Linked DNA regions of Homo sapiens. The protein of the gene in region 1 interacts with the protein of each later gene in a pairwise test. Each region holds a gene or a part of one and is shown on either strand. Other genes may lie near its edges.

Region 1 (8,254 bases):
GGACTAGAACCTATGTCTTAGACTTGCTAGTCCAGCATTACTTCCATTACTCCATGCTACAAAGTAACTAGCATCTCTATATCATATGTGACCTCCTAAATTTATCTCTATTCTCTCTCTTCCCTACCAACCCCATTCTCACACTTCATCAAGCCTTTGCAATGGCAGATGAAAAGGAATAGGTCTCAACTCCAAGTAGGTTGCTAGAGAGCTATTACTCTCCTTTCATCATGCCTTGGGTAGTCTAATCCTCTGGAAGTACAAACCCCTGCAAGACAAAAAACAGTCCAGAATCCCACCAAAGCCCCAGCCCAGCCTCAGCCCCAGCCCCAGCCCAAGCCCCAGCCCCTGTAAGCCAGCCCCTCCAGGGAAGAGAGGGAGCAATCCCAACTCACTGATGAAAATCGCAAAATGATTGTCCCGCGATGGTTTCACAGTGGGGCTGTCCACCACGTGGAGGGTGTAGCGTGGCTCCCCCGTGTCCCCATCGCACAAGTCCAGAGACACACTCCCCAGCCTGGCCTTGCGGCGCAGCTGGCTGCACAGCCAGGCATACTGCTGTCGCTCCTGCACCGCCTCGGCCAGCCGCTCGGCACTCTCCAGCCGCACAGGCTTGCGCTGCTCCTGAGCACACAGCTCAAAGATCTGAAGGGCAGAGCCAGGGACTGGCCTGAACTTGGTCATGATGAAGGCAAAGACAGGCAAGGAGAACTGAGGCTCTGCTTCCAACACCTGGTCCTGGCTGTTGGCCACTTGGTGCACCCTCACCATCCACCCCTCCCGGGAGAAGTGGCCCACTGCTTTCTTCAGGATGTGAGCCTGAGCCAGGGAGATGCAGAGATAGCGACCGCCCACCTGCAGGACACGGCCAACCTCAGCCAGCATCCTGTCCACCTGTTGTAAGGTCTTCTCTTCCTCATCTGTCAGGACAGCATCCAGGGTGCCCTTGTCCAACACCACCTGGAACGAGGCATCAGGAAACTCCATCTGCGTCATGTCCATCTTCAAGAAGCTCATCTGGGGCCGTCGGGTGGCATTACATTCCTTCATTTGCTTGATGACAACCTCACTGATGTCGATGTTCACTATATCCCGATAGCCCACATCATACAGTTGCTCACTCAGTTCTGAGTTGCCACACCCAATCACCAGCACCTGGAGAAAAAATTCACAGACAAGAGGGAGGTAATCAAAGCAAAGGACTGTACTTCAGGTACTTCAAGGAATCAAGTCTCACCTTGGCTGAGTCACATTTTCAGAAGGTGGAGACGCTACTGCCAGAGAAAGAGCGACATTGTAGAGTTGATGCTAGACTCTATCTTGAAACACCACATATACTTGCTAGTGAAAACCACATTCAGCTACAATACAGGTTATATGAGAATGGGCTTTGTGTTGCAGAAACAAATTAATCATAACTGTTCTTTTCTCTAAATCATGCACTTATTACTCAGGAATTAATAGGAAGTCAGAGAATCCAAATATAGAGTTACAGTTGAAATCCTAGGCCAGGAATAACCCTATTTCCTCACTCTACTCATGCCTTTGGCTCCTTTAGACAATAAAGTACACTTTGTGAGGATTCAAATCTTACTTCCATCACGGATTCCATCTCATGATATTTGGCTATCTTCTGAAGCCGAACTTAAAATTCAGATTGTTGTCTCCCTCTCCAGGGAGCAATCTCCCATTCAAACTTAGAAATTCTGATATTGCCATCTTTGGAAAAGCATGGTACAAAGAGATGTGCATATGCTCTGGAGCCAGACAGGCCTGAGTTTAAATCCCCACATGACCACCTGGACATGATCTTGGGCAAAAAAAAAAAAAAAAGTGGCTCTCGGGGCCTCAGTTTCCTCATCTGTAAAATGTATGCATGGCCACTCACCTGAATTTATGATGAGAATTCAAAGATTGCACATGCACATACACAGCACCCAACATAAGGCTTGGCACATAAAGCTTCCCCACAAATGTTAAGTTTTCTACCTTCCTCCTTCCCTACCTCCAGTACAATCTCACCTATACCAAACCCATTGTTGTACTTATCACGTTTCACTTCTGGAACATGTGCAGGGTTTACGTCTTAATGCTCTTATAGTTTAAGGACTGAGCAGTGCCTGAAACTTGGGGCGCACTCAACGACTATTTGAAAAACAAATTCATACACAAAGTCACACCTGCTGCAGGTTGCACAGGAATGCACAGTGACAGAAGAACATACTTTCAAGATGGGAAGTCACTCTTCAAGTAGGGTTATTAATCCAAGAATGAGCTGGGGTGGGAGGTCTATTATCTGAAAACCTTTAAAGAAATGTTTTTTTTTTTAGACAGGGTCTCACTCTGTCACCCAGGCTGGAGTGCAGTGGCGTGATCATGGCTCACTGCAGCCTCGACCTCCTGGGCTCAAGCGATCCTCCCGCCTAAGCCTCCCGAGTAGCTGGAAATACAGATGCGCGCCACCACGCCCGGCTAATTTTTTCATTTTTTGTAGAGACGAGGTCTCATGTTCCCCAGGCTGGTCTTTAACTCCAGGGCTCAAGCGATCCTCCCACCTCGGTCTCCCAAAGTGTTCGGATTACAGGTGTGAGCCACTGCGCCCGGCCTGAAAGAATATTCTAGTTTGTCTTTTAGCAGGAACAATGCAGGAAATGCTGAAATATGCGTCCAACTAGGGTCCTCCCGCCTGTCACTGTCCACCAAGTGCAAGATTCCTGTTACCAGTTCCCACCTTCCGGAGCACGTACGAAGGGCTACCAACCCGCGCTCCTCACCTTTTCCCTGGGCTTGATATATTTATGTAGCACCCCGCACAGTTCCAGGTAGGTTCCATACCACTCGAAAGCTTTCTTTCCTCGCTGCTGGAAGAACTTCTCCCAATAGTCAACGGAGCCAAACTCCCTGGAACTTTTAGGTAAGAGGTTCATGTTCCTACTGCCGAAGCTGCGTTTTCAAGACTCCCCTATTCCCTGTGAGATACCATTTGAGGAGCTTGCCCACCACACGCAGGCTCCGGGACACTGCAGTGGGAATTCTTTCCACGGAAAAACAGCCACATTGATTTGTTCCCCCACTCCAAACCCCAGGAATGACCCTTACACGACAAACGCACGCATGGACCACTGAATCTCACACACGCTTGCCCCCTCCTCCGCGCCTGCTGTTCCTTCCCCACGTGAAGAGCCCCTCACACTTTTCCCGAACTAGATTTCCGAGCCCATAACCATATCCGGGTGCGAAGCCTCGTGATTCGTCGGCCGGCCCAGCCCAACTCAGCTAGTCATTGGTCGCTGCTTTGCGTTTCTATCACCTCATTGGCTGCGACGTGCTTGCCTTTCTCCGGAGGCTCCGTCGCAGACACCTAAACGCTTTTTTGACCTGAGGCCGGCCGACCATTCACGGAACGGGGCGGGACCGCGGGCCGGAGTTGTGGCGGAAGAGGCCGGGCCTCTGTGAGAACTAGGTCACGTCCGGGTGAGGAGTGAGCGCGGCTGTGCTGTGGTTGGGCCCTCCCTCCAGGCGGGGCGGAGAGCGCGCTTGCTTCCTGGGCTCGGCCTCCGCTTTGTCTTGGAGCCGGCTTAATCACTGACTCCGATCGTGCGCCGCACAAGGGCGGAGCGCGGCAGGCGGGAGCGTACTGGTAGAGGAGGACGAAAAGAAAAACCTATACAGATAGGAGAGAAGTGAGGCAGGAAATGAGTAAAGCCAGTCCGTCGTAAAAACGCTGCACATTCTAACCTTGTCAGCTTCTGCGCACCAGCACCCCCCGCCTTATTTTGCCACCTCTGCACCAAAATATAGGATTCTGCTATCAAAAGTGTAATAACATGAAAACTCCCTCTTCCTTCTCTCCGCAAAGCACAGCATGCAAAACTAGCCTTTCATTTTGATAATTGGCCTCCTTGTGTTATTCTGACGTTATTTATAACTGCTTATTTTATGTGTTTGATAAACATACTGTACTTTCACATGCTCATGCTAATACCCTGAGGAAGCTTCTGTGAAGGGCACTTTTTTTTCAGACAGGGTCTGTCTCTGTCGCCCAGACTGGAGTGCAGTGGTGCAGTCATGGCTCACTGCAGTCTCCACTTTCCAGGGGTCAGGGGATCCTCCCACCTCAGCCTCCCAAGTAGCACGCCACTACCGCTGGCTAATTTTTTTTTTTTTTTTGTAGAAATGGGGTTTCGCCATGTTGTCCGGGCTGTTCTCAAACTCCTGAGCTCAAATGATCATCTCGCCTCACCCTACCAAAGTGCTGGGATGACTGGTGTGAGCCACTATGCTGGCAGGCACTATTTGAAAATGACCAAATATGTGTATCACTGGGCCTTTCATACCATGATAAATTGCAGGAGGAATATACTGATTGCGGAGAGCAGATAGGCTTGGAATTGAGCATGTGTGCTGTGGGCTGTTACATACTACACTACCACAGGTAGATAGCCAGGTAGACTGTTAATAGTTAAGTAGGTTAGATTGGACTTAAACATTGGTTTAAAAAAGTGATTCTCAAACTGGCATGCGTCAGAATCACCTGGAGGACTTGTTAAAACACAGAATTCCCCAGTCCAACCCCTGTTCTAAGTCATTAGTTCAGTGGTGAGGCCCAAGGATTTGTGTTTCTAACAAGTTCCCACGATGCTGATGATGTTGGTCCCGGAACCACACTTTTTTGAGAACCACTGTTTTAAAATACAATTAAGTCAAAATGGATATGGTTCAAAATTCGCAATTTTCAATGATAAATCTAAAAGCTTTCTACAAGTAACATAAGAGAAAATCTGTTTTCATGATCCCTTTGCTGAGTTCACATTGTTCCTCTCTACCCAAGATAAAGAGAAGGAGTCCTTGAAGTAGTAACTTCAGCTACTACACCATGCAAGGTTCTGAATGGGTGAAATGTGAGTTCTTTAGGAAGCACTTATTGAGAGCGGAGGACATCACTTGTACTGAATGTGCTACACGATACCAAAGAAGCAAAACAGCATAGCAGCCAGGCGCGGTGGCTCACGCCTGTAATCCTACCACTTTGGTAGGCCGAGGCGGGCGGATCACTTGAGATCAGGAGTTTGAGATCAGCCTGGCCAACATGGTGAAACCATGTCTCTAATAAAAATACAAAAATTAGCCGAGCGTGGTTGTGTGTGCCTGTGGTCCCAGCTACTCAGGAGGCTGAGGCAGGAGAATCGCTTGAACCCGGGAGGCGGAGGTTGCAGTGAGCCAAGAGATTGCGCCACCGCACTCCATCCTGGCCAACAGAAGGAGACTCCCTCTCAAAAACGACAACAACAAAAACAAACAAAAACCATAGCAGCTGCTCTGTGCCCCCCAAAGCTTTATTCAATTCAGTTCAACAAATATTTTAATTGTCTAATAGGGGCCAATCACTGTGGTAGAAGCTAAGGATGCAGTGGTAAGCATGGTAATCACGTGGAGGGCACATTAAACAATTACAAAAATAGTCTGTAATGGGAGTTATAAGTGCTGTGAAGGAGAACCATACCATTCCATGATAGTATATCTTTGTGACCTCTACTGATCTAAGGGGTAACCAGAGAAGGCTTCCCTGAGGAAGGGACAAAAATACTATATAATCTGACTGCTTAATATCAGCATGACATAGGTGAAAAACCAAAAAGCATGGTTCACCTTCTGGAACCTTTACAAGAATTTCTGGCTGCTGCTTTTCCCTCTGTCTCCATTGTCTGTTCTGTTAAGGTCATGTTATTAGAAAAGACGAAGTTATTTCTATCACAGCCCAGGCTCCAGCCCCGTATTTGATGCTCTAAAAGTATGATTACTGTTTGCAGTGTTTTTCAGACCAAAAGGGTAAGTAACTTACGTTTTTCCATCTGTGCCTGCCTCCCTTCTGTGAGCCTAAAAAAGTGATAACAACCAGAACATTTTAAGCTTAAACATACTAGAGATTTTCTAAAATTGTAAGATTAACACAGAAATATTTTAGATATATTGTAACATTAGACCCTAGCATTAACCTTTCAAAATACTTATTTGAAGCTTATTTCTCTCAAGATTTAACTATGAAATATAATTGATAGGTATGTGTTATCATTAGTATACTTAGTTAATTTAAACCAATAAGATGTTAAAATGCTTTGTGTTTTATTAGGATCCCCAGAGTGGTTAAAAATATGATTTAAAATGCAAGCTAAATTTAGATAAAGCCATTCAGTATTGTGGAGTTTTTTCCTAAAAATATAAATCCAGACCTCTGGATATATAATTTACAGTCAAACTTACTTAATTGAAACATTCTCATAATTGTGGTAATATTCAATTGATTGTTACTACGATTAATTGTAAAATAATAAAGAGGGAATAAAAAGCATCTCTGACAATTTGGGAGGCAGAGGATGAGAGAGGCAAAATAATGCTCCCCTAAAGATGTCTACCTCCTAATCCCCTGAACCGAAACTGTGAAGGTAACAGGTTACAAGGCAAAGAAGAATTAAGGTTGTAGATGCAATTAAGGATGCTAATCAGCTGACATAGCAAGATTATCTAACTGAGCTCAATGTAATCACAGGGTCCTTTTTCATTTTCTTTCTTTTTTTTTTTTTTTTTTTTTGAGACGGAGTCTTACTCTGTTGCCCAGTCTGGAGTGCAGTGGCACGATCTTGGCTCACTGCAACCTCCGCCTCCCAGGTTCAAGCAATTCTCCTGCCTCAGCCTCTTGAGTAGCTACGGATTACAGGCGTGCACACACCCAGCTGATTTTTGTATTTTTAGTAGTCTCACCATGTTGGCCAGGCTGGGCCACAAGGGTCTTTTAAAGTAGAAGAGGGAGAGACAGAAGGGCTTGGCCCAATGTTTCTGGCTTTGAAGATGAAGGAAAGCAGCCATGAACCAAGGAAAGGCGGTGACCTCTAGAACCTGGAAAAGGAAAAGAAATGAATTCTCCTGTAGAGCCTCCAGAAGAAATACGGCCCTATTGACACCTTGATTTTAATTTATTGAGACTTGTCAGACTTCTGACTGATCCAACTGTAAGATAATAAATTTGTATTGCATATAGTACTAGTTTTTGGTAATTTGTTACAGTAGTGATAGGAAACTAATACGGAACATAAACAGAAGAGAGAAAGAGAGAGAGAGAGTATGTGTGGTTGGGGCAGAAGGTCACAGTGGGGAGAAAGCAGCAGAAGATACAACTAGAGGCTGAGGTAAAGGGCAGGTTTTGAGGAGTCTTCTATTCCACATATTTAGCTTCAGCCTGTCAGGCCACAGGAAGTCAACAGAGAAGCAGAGTCATGACAGAAAGACCTGATCTGAGAGATGTTCTCAGGAAAGACTGAGGCACTTGATGACTGATTGAATAGGGGGAATAAAAGACTGAGGGACTCATAAATGACTCCTACATCGGCCTCTGGATGACTGAAGAAATAGTCTGTAGAAAGAAACGGGGAAGGAGAAAGGGGTATTATTTGTAGAACTGTTGCTAGAAAAGAATTTAGAGGTTATCACTCCAGTAAAAACCAGAGCCAGAGCTAAAAGCCAGTCTCCCCACCCTGCATGCCTACCCCAGGGCTCATACCCTTCTCACTTCCTGTCAGTGGTATCCAGTTGGAGTTGGTAGGTCCAACACATGAAAATGTTTCACGAGTGGGATATAAAATTAAGTAAAGGGAATGTCTCTTTGGTGTACAGGGAGTGGCTCATATAATGCTGGAAACTATTTCAAATTGGAAATCATCTTAGCAAATGGGTTTGTTTTCCACATTTGAGAAGTTTAAAAATGAATGTTCTCCTGTATCTTGGGATAATAGAAGGCAGACACAATAACATCCTAGGGTAACATTCTGCCATTTTATTAGCTGAGTGTCAACACTTTTCTTGACGATATTGTTGACCTGAAAAGTGACTATCAAGCTGATATTGGATTCCTAAGATTGGGATGATGATAATAGCTACTTATTTATTTATTTATTTGTTTGTTTGTTTGTTTATATAAGACAGGGTCTCACTGTGTCACCCAGGCTGGAGTGCAGTGGTGCAGTCACAGCTTACTGCAGCCTCGACTTCATGGGCTCAAGTGATCCTTCCACCTCAGTCTCCCAAGTAGCTGGGACTACAGGTACGAGCCTCCATGCCTGGCTAATTTAAAAAAATATATATTTTTGTAGAGACAGGCTCTCCCTATGTTGCCCAGGCTGGTCTCAAACTGCTGACTTCAAGGGATCCTCCCACCTCAGTCTCTCAAAGCGGTAGGATTACAGGTGTAAGCCACCATGCC
Region 2 (7,872 bases), on another chromosome or scaffold:
GGCCTGGTTCATCCATCTTTTCTTTTGTACTCGGTGCTTTTTGTATCCTGTTTGGAAAACAGGATGTTTCCACTTTTCATGCCCTCACCAAGGTCATTTAGACATTTTCCTGTTTTCTTCTAGAAACTTTATTGTGTGAGGGCCGGGTGCAGTGGCTCACGCTTGTAATCCCAGCACTTCGGGAGGGTGAGGAGGGCGGATCACTTGAGGTCAGGAGTTCGAGACCAGCCTGGCCAACATGGTGAAACCCCATCTCTACTAAAAATACAAAAATTAGCTGGGTGTGGTGGCACATGCCTGTAGTCCCAGATCCTCGGGAGGCAGGGGCAGGAGACTCGCTTGAACCCAGGAAGCGCAGGTTGCAGAGAGCTGAGATCACACCACTGCACTCCAGCCTGGACTACAGAGCGAGGCTCTGTCTCAAAAAAAAAAAAAAAAAAAAAAAAAAGAAAAAGAAAAAGAAAAGAAAAGAGAAAAGAAACTATATTTTGTGAGTTGTCACATTTGGATCTGCAATTCACTTCAAGTTATATTTTGCATATAGTATGAGGTAGGGCTAATTTTTTCCCCTTGCAGATACCCAACTGCCCCGCATCATGAACTAGGGGAAAAAAAGTCCTTTCCTCAGTGAAGTGCAGTGGTACCTCGATCACACATCAAGTAATTATACAAGTGTAGCTGTACCTAGACTCTTCATCCTGTCCCCTTGGTCTGTCTTCCTACCCTTCTGCCAACTGTATATCATCCTGGTTGGTTGCTGCAGGTTTTTTTTTTTTTTTTGCACATGGACGTGGTGGCATGTGCCTGTGATCCAGCTACTTGGGAGGCTGAGGCAGAAGATCACTTGAACTTGAGAGGCAGAGGTTGCAGTGAGCCGAGATTGCACGACTGCATTCCAGCCTGGGGAGACAGATTGACTGAGACTCCCTCCCGAAAAAAAACAAAAGAAAACAAAACAAAACAAAAAAGAGACAAGGTCTCACTCTGTTACCCAGGCTGGAGTGCAGTGACAAAACCACTGTTCACTGCAGCCTTGACCTCCAGTTCTCAAGCGATCCTCCCAGCTCAGCCTCCTGAGCAGCTGGGACTACAGGAATGAGTCACCACGCCCAGTTTTCTATTTTATTTTTTGTAGAGATGAGGTCTTGCTATTTTATAGAGGCTGGTCTTGAACTCCTGACCTAAAGCAATCCTCCTATCTTGGCCTCCCAAAGTGCTGGGATTACAGGCATGAGCCATTGGGCCTGGCCTGGTTGCTGGAGCTTCCCCTGGTCATGCAGGTCCTGGTGCTTTATTCTCCTCGCCTGGCTTGGCCTTGTCTTTCCACACATTTAGAAAGAGCCAATCAGTGTCCAGTGTTTACCGAAATTCCTGGTGGGATTTTGATTGCAATCACGTTGAATCTTCAATTAATTTGGATGGAACTGACCTCTTGACAATACTGAGTCTTCCTATCCATTGCTGAGTCTCTGATTTCTCCCAGCTACATTCTGTGATTTCAGTGTAGTCGTTCTGCAAACCTTTTGTTGGATTTACCCCTCAGTGCTACTTTTCAATGTGAAGTCTACTGGTCTGTTACTGGCATATAAAAATAAAACTGGGGGCCAGCCATGGTGGCTCATGCATGTAATCCTAGCACTTTGGGAGGCTGAGACAGTGAGTTTGAGACTAGCCTGGGTGATATGGCTAAGCCCCGTCTCTACAAAAAATGCAAAAGTTAGCTGGGTGGAGTGGCACGGACTGACAGTTCCAGCTGCTAGGGAGGCTGAGGCGTATCACTTGAGCCTGGGAGGCGGAGGTTGTAGTGAGCTGTGATGGCGCCACTGCACTCCAACCTGGGTGACAGTGAGACCCTGTCTCAAAACATAATATGAATAAATAAATAAAACTAATTTTTTTCCATATTGCCTTTATATCCAGCGATCTTTCTAAATTTAAGTTCACTTATTAATCCTAACAGTTGCTTAGTAGACACTTGGATTTTCTACATGCACAATGAGTTACAAGACACAGGCGACAAAATCAAGGCCACGGAGAGAGCGAAACCAAGTCATAGCCATGAAGAAAGACCTTGAGAAACAGTCACAAGGAGGGAACAAGAGTTTCGAAAGGAGATAGCATCATCTAGGTGCTCAATACCCCCCAAAAGAGAGAGAGAAACACATCTCTATAAAGAAATGGAAAGGAGGGGTCTGAAGCCCCAAGGGGAGAACTCTCCCCACCCTGTCCCAAAGCCAGTCCATGTGGCTGAGGAAGGTCTGGCAGTGGGAGGGTTGGTCTCCGGGACCTGGCTTACCGGGACAGGCCCCTGGACAGCCCCCACCACGGGGGTGGCTCCCCCGCCTTGCACAGCCTTCTTGGTGGCCGGGGTCTCCTGGCTCTTGGGCTTCCTCTTCTCCCGCTTGCGGTCCCGCTCCACGAAGGTGCCTTTCATCTTGGCAATGATATCTGAGTCGGTCTTGGCATACTGGATACGCTACCAAACAGAGAGCAGAACGGGTTAAGAGCGTGGATTCAGAGCCCAATTGCCAAGATTCAAAATTGGACCTTTATCAGGGGCCAGGTGCTGCGGCTCATGCCTGTAATCCCAGCCCTTTGGGAGGCTAAAGCGAGCAGATCACTTGAGGCCAGGAGGTGGAGACCAGCTTGGCCAACATGGCAAAACCCCATTTCTTTGTTTCTTTTCTTTTTTTTTTTTTTTTGAGACATTGTCTTGCTCTGTCACCCAGGCTAGAGTGCAGTGATGAGATCTCAGCTGACTGCAACCTCTGCCTCCCGGGTTCAAGCAATTCTGCCTCAGCCTCCCTACTAGCTGGGATTACAGGCGCCCACCACCACGCCTGGCTAATTTTTGTGCTTTTAGTAGAGACAGGGTTTCACCATGTTGGCCAGGCTGGTCTCGAACTCCTGACCTCAGGTGATCCACCCACCTCGGCCTCCGAAAGTGCTGGGATTACAGGCATGAGCCACTGCGCCTGGCCAGGAAACCCCATTTCTACCAAAAATACAAAAATTAGCTGGGCATGGTGGTGCGCACCTGTAGTCCCAGCTACTCAAGAGGCTGAGGCAGAAGAATCGCTTGAACCCAGGAGGCGAAGGTTGCAGTCAGCTGAGATGGCACCACTGCACTCCAGCCCAGGCAACAGAGCAAAAAACAAAAAACAAAAAACAAACAAACAAAAAAAAATTCAGACCTTATCAGGAGCTTACTGAGAAACACAGAAATATCTTGGCCTTAACTTCCTTGTCTGAAAAATGGGGATTATGATACTTCCCACTTCAAAGGACTGTTGTGAGGACTAAATGAGTTAAAGTGCTTGGAACAGTACCTGACACACAGTAAGCAAGTGTTCAGTAGAAAGGCTGTTGGTATTTTTAAGGGAAGCTGGAACAGCAATAAACATCAGGCCAAAGGACCGAGGAGACAATGCTAGGAGAGGAGTGCAGTGCAGGGGGATTTCCTGTCACACAAGAATACTTCAGTCTTCCAGGTTCAATCTCACTCACTTAGCTGTTTAAGGAGAACCTGCCAGATGCCAGGCGCCATTCAAGGCTCTGGGAATAAAGCAATGAACAAAATAGACAAAAACCCCTCTTTCATGGTGCTTATTCAGTAGGGGAAGGTATGTTAAAGATTCTTAGTGTGGCACAGTAGCTCACGCCTGTAATCCTAGCACTTTGGGAGGCTGAGGCAGGCAGATCACTTGAGCTCAGGAGTTTGAGACCAGCCTGGGCAACATGGCGAAACCCCGTCTCTACTAAAAATAAAAAAATCAGCCAGGTATGGTGGCACGTGCCTGTAATCCCAGCTACTCAGGAGGCTGAGGCAGGAGAATCACTTGAACCCGGGAGGTGGAGGTTGCAGTGAGCCAAGATTGCACCACTGCACTCCAGCCTGGGCAACAGAGGAAGATTCTGTCTCAAAATAATTTATTTATTTATTTATTTATTTATTTATTTTTTCTGAGACAGAGTCTCACTCTGTTGCCTAGGCTGGAGTGCAGTGGCAGGATCTCGGCTCACTGCAATCTCTGCCTCCCGGGTTCAAGCAATTCTCCTTCCTCAGCCACAGGAGTAGCTGGGACTACAGGTGCATGCTGCCACACCGAGCTAATTTTTGTATTTTAGTAGAGACAGGGTTTCACGGTGTTGCCCAGGCTGGCTGCAAACTCCTGAGCTCAGGTAATCCACCTGCCTCGGCCTCCCAAAGTGCCAGGATTACAGACGTGAGCCACCGCCCTCGGCCAAAGAAAAGATTTTTAAATGAGGCAAGGTGCAGTGGGAGCCTGGTCCAGCCTCACCTTGGCAAATGAACCGTAATATCCCCTCCTCTAATCCAGGCCCGCCCAGTCTCCTATAACATTTTACACACCCACACAGCCTCCGTACCCGCAATGCTCACCATAGGTTTGTCATAGAAAGGGAAACCCTGCATGGAGCGCAGGGCGTTGGTGGCGCTGCTGACCTCCTTGAAGATGACAAAGGCCTGGCCCCTCATCTTCAGGCTCCGTGATACCAGGATATCCAGGATCTGGCCAAACTGGGAGAAGATGGCGTACAGGGACTTTTTTAGCTCTGCAGTGGGGGAAAAAAAGACCTTTGAGCTCCCCTTTTTAGAAGAAGCGCAGCCCAAATAGAAGACCATCAGCCAATTGATGGGGTACCCAGAATGCCTCGGGTCCATAATCTCTCAAGACCTAACAATCACAGAAGCAGCCAGGAACCACTCAAGTGGCCAAGTACACTCTTCTACTCTTCTGTAAGATGTGCTTACAGAGAGCTGCTATATAATGAACATGTGCACATACATGCAAAGTGCTCAGGACAGCATCCGGCACGTAGTAAACACTCGATAAATGAGTGATTCTTTTCACTGCCACCAGCACCCTGACATGGGCCTGCATGACGTGGCCCTGGCAGATTTCCCCCACCTCATCCCTGCCCACATTCCACCGCCCTCCTGAGTTCCCAACCACACTGGCCCCCAGGTCTGACACACCAATTTTGCCCCAGGGCCTTTGAACTGGCTGCTCTCTTTACCTGGAACATCCCTCCCCTGAGGTTTACATGGTGGCCTCCTTCTAGTCACCCAGTCTCAGAGGAAATGTTGCCACCTCTGACCACGACGTCTAAATTTCTTCCCATGTCATTCTTACTCTACTTCCTTTTCTTTCATGACTATTTCCCACCTCCTGTCATGGTACGTTAACTTGTCTATCTTGCCTGAGGAGCTATAAGCCTGTCCCATTTGTTTACTGCAGTATGCCAAGCCTAGCACAGACTCCACCACAATTTTTTTTTTTTTTTTTTGGTGACAAGGTCTCACTTTGTCACCCAGGCTGGAGTGCAGTGGCATGATCATGGCTCACCGTAGCCTCAACCTCCCGGACTCAAGCGGTCCTCCCACTTCAGCCTATGGAGTAGCTGGGACCACAGGTGTATGCCACCATGCCCAGCTAATTTCTGGATTTTGTGCAGAGACAGGGTCTTGCTATGTTGCCCAGGCTGGTCTTGAACTCCTGAGCTTCAGCAATTAGCCCACCTTGGCCTCCGAAAGTGCTGGGATTACAGGAGTGTGCCACCACACCTGGCTGCAAACATTTGACTAGATACCATCAAGTGCCTTTTTTTTTTTTTAAAGACAGAATCTCCTTCTACTGCTCAGGGTGGAGTTCAGTGGCATGATGGTAGCTTACTACAGGCCTGACCTCCCAGGCTCAAGCAATCTTCCCACCACAGCCTCCCAAGGAGCTGGGACCATAGGCACGCAGCACGACGCACGGCTAATTTTTTATTTTTTGTAGACACAGTCTCCTATGTTGGCCAGGTTGGTCTTGAACTCCTGGGCTCCAGTGATCCTCCTGCCTTGGCTTCCCCAAAGTGCTGGGATTACAGGCATGAGTCATCGCACCCCCATCAAATGCTTTATGGAGGTAACTTCACTTCCTCACAACAAACCCATTAGGTGGCAACTATGACTGTCCCAATTTTACTGGAAACAGGTTCTCAGAGGATTCCTCACTGGCCCAGGGCATCAATCTGGAGGGCATAAGGAAGCGTATGGCAGAGCCCAGTCCACGTATTCCATCTGAACCCGGTACCACCACATCTCACCAGCAAAGGGCATCACTTGACAGCAAGTGAGATTCAAGCTCAACAAGGATGGACTCCCTCTCACCACCCAGGTCTGCAAAGGGCACCAATGTCTTATGCAAAGAAGATGGCTGAGATGGCCAAGCATGGTGGCTCACACCTGTAATCCCAGCACTCTGGGAGGCCGAGGTGGGCAGATCCTTTGCACTCAAGAGTTCAAGACCAGTCTGGGCAATAGGGTGAAACCCTGTCTCTACAAAAGATACAAAAATTAGCCAGGCATAGTGGTGCATGCCTTGTGGTCATAGCTACTTGGGAGGCTGAAGTGGGAGGATCACTCTAGCCTGGGAGGCAGAGGTTGCAGTGAGCCATGACCTCACCACTGGACTCCAACCTTCATAAAAACTGGCCAGGCATGGTGGCTCATGCCTATAATTCCAGCACTTTGGGAGGCTGAGGCAGATCACGTGAGGTCAGGAGTTCAAGACCAGCCTGGCCAAGACGGTGAAACCCCGTCTTGACTAAAAATGCCAAAAAAAAAAAAAAAAAAAAAAAAGAAAAGAAAAAAAATTAGCTAGGCGTGGTGGAGGGCGCTTGTAATCCCAGCTACTGGGGAGGCTGAGGCATGAGAATAGCTTGAACCAGAGAGGCAAAAGTTACAGTGAGCAGAGATTGCGCCACTGCACTCCAGCCTGGGTGACAAATCGAAACTCCATCTCAAAAAAAAAAGCTAAGCTGAAGCAGAAGCCACTTGTAAAATAGATACCAGGCTAGGAAAGAAGCAAGAAAATGTGTAGGCTGGGTGGGGGCAGGGACAGCAGTCAAGGTTGTTTTTAAGCAATTAGTCAAAAATTCTCCTGGTGGTGACATTTCTGGTTTTCCTCTCCGTACTCCATCCCCATGAATCTTGCTCAGACTTCACTCATTCCACGGGACTCTGGGCCTCTCTCTACTCTCCAGCCTCCCCTCGCCCATTCGCATTTACCCTCCACAGCTGGGAGGATATTCCACCAGGGAGGCAGCCAGGACAGGGAAGCAGTCTGGCTCCCCAACACCCTCAGGGCAAAGTCCAACACCTCACAGCCATGAGCCACCAGTGCACAGCTCACTGGAAGTTTCCCCATGATTTACAAGCCTCAAAACTACTTGTAATACTCAGAATACGCCAGGCTCTTTTGACCCTAAACATCTGAACAAGCTGGACCAAGTTAAGAATGCTCTTCTCCCTCAGTGTAACATAAATACTGCTTACTGTACCTGGCAGGCTCTCCAAAATGTCTCCTTTTCCTGGAAGCTGAATGGATCTCTCTGTCTTTCTAAGTTCCCAATCCCAGCCCTCAACACTCTGCCTAAGCTTCCTGCCTGATGGCCCTGACTACTCTGGGCTGTCACTGTCCTAAAGAACCAGGGTTCTGGCCGGGTGCGGTGGTTCACACCTGTAATCCCAGCACTTTGGGAGGCCGAGGCGGGTGGATCACAGTTCAGGAGTTCGAGACCAGCATAGCCAAGATGGTGAAACCCCGTCTCTACTAAAAATACAAAAATTAGCCAAGCGTGGTAGCAGGTGCTTGGAATCCCAGCTACTCAGGAGGCTGAGGCAGAGAATCACTTGAATTCGGGAGGCGGAGGTTGCAGTGAGCTGAGATCGCACCACTGCATTCCAGCCTGGGCAACAGAGCGACACTCCGTCTCATCTCAAAAAAAAAAAAAAAACGCCGGGCGCTGGGGCTGACGCCTGTAATCCCAGCACTTTTGGAGGCCAAGGTGGGCAGATCACGA

What was found. The genes of interacting proteins can lie anywhere in the genome.
Region 2: the proteins of METTL13 (region 1) and SNRPA interact in binary tests that used the Homo sapiens proteins (3 or more experiments, as listed by UniProt).

What each region holds. Positions count from the first base shown.
Region 1 is NC_000001.11:171,776,641-171,784,894, reverse strand, and holds the start of METTL13 (eEF1A lysine and N-terminal methyltransferase), read right to left. Parts: upstream 3,236-8,254; 5' UTR 2,928-3,235; coding exon 2,775-2,927; intron 1,156-2,774; coding exon 396-1,155; intron 1-395. UniProt on the Homo sapiens protein: Dual methyltransferase that catalyzes methylation of elongation factor 1-alpha (EEF1A1 and EEF1A2) at two different positions, and is therefore involved in the regulation of mRNA translation.
Region 2 is NC_000019.10:40,754,035-40,761,906, reverse strand, and holds part of SNRPA (U1 small nuclear ribonucleoprotein A), read right to left. Parts: intron 4,576-7,872; coding exon 4,403-4,575; intron 2,477-4,402; coding exon 2,297-2,476; intron 1-2,296. UniProt on the Homo sapiens protein: Component of the spliceosomal U1 snRNP, which is essential for recognition of the pre-mRNA 5' splice-site and the subsequent assembly of the spliceosome. U1 snRNP is the first snRNP to interact with pre-mRNA.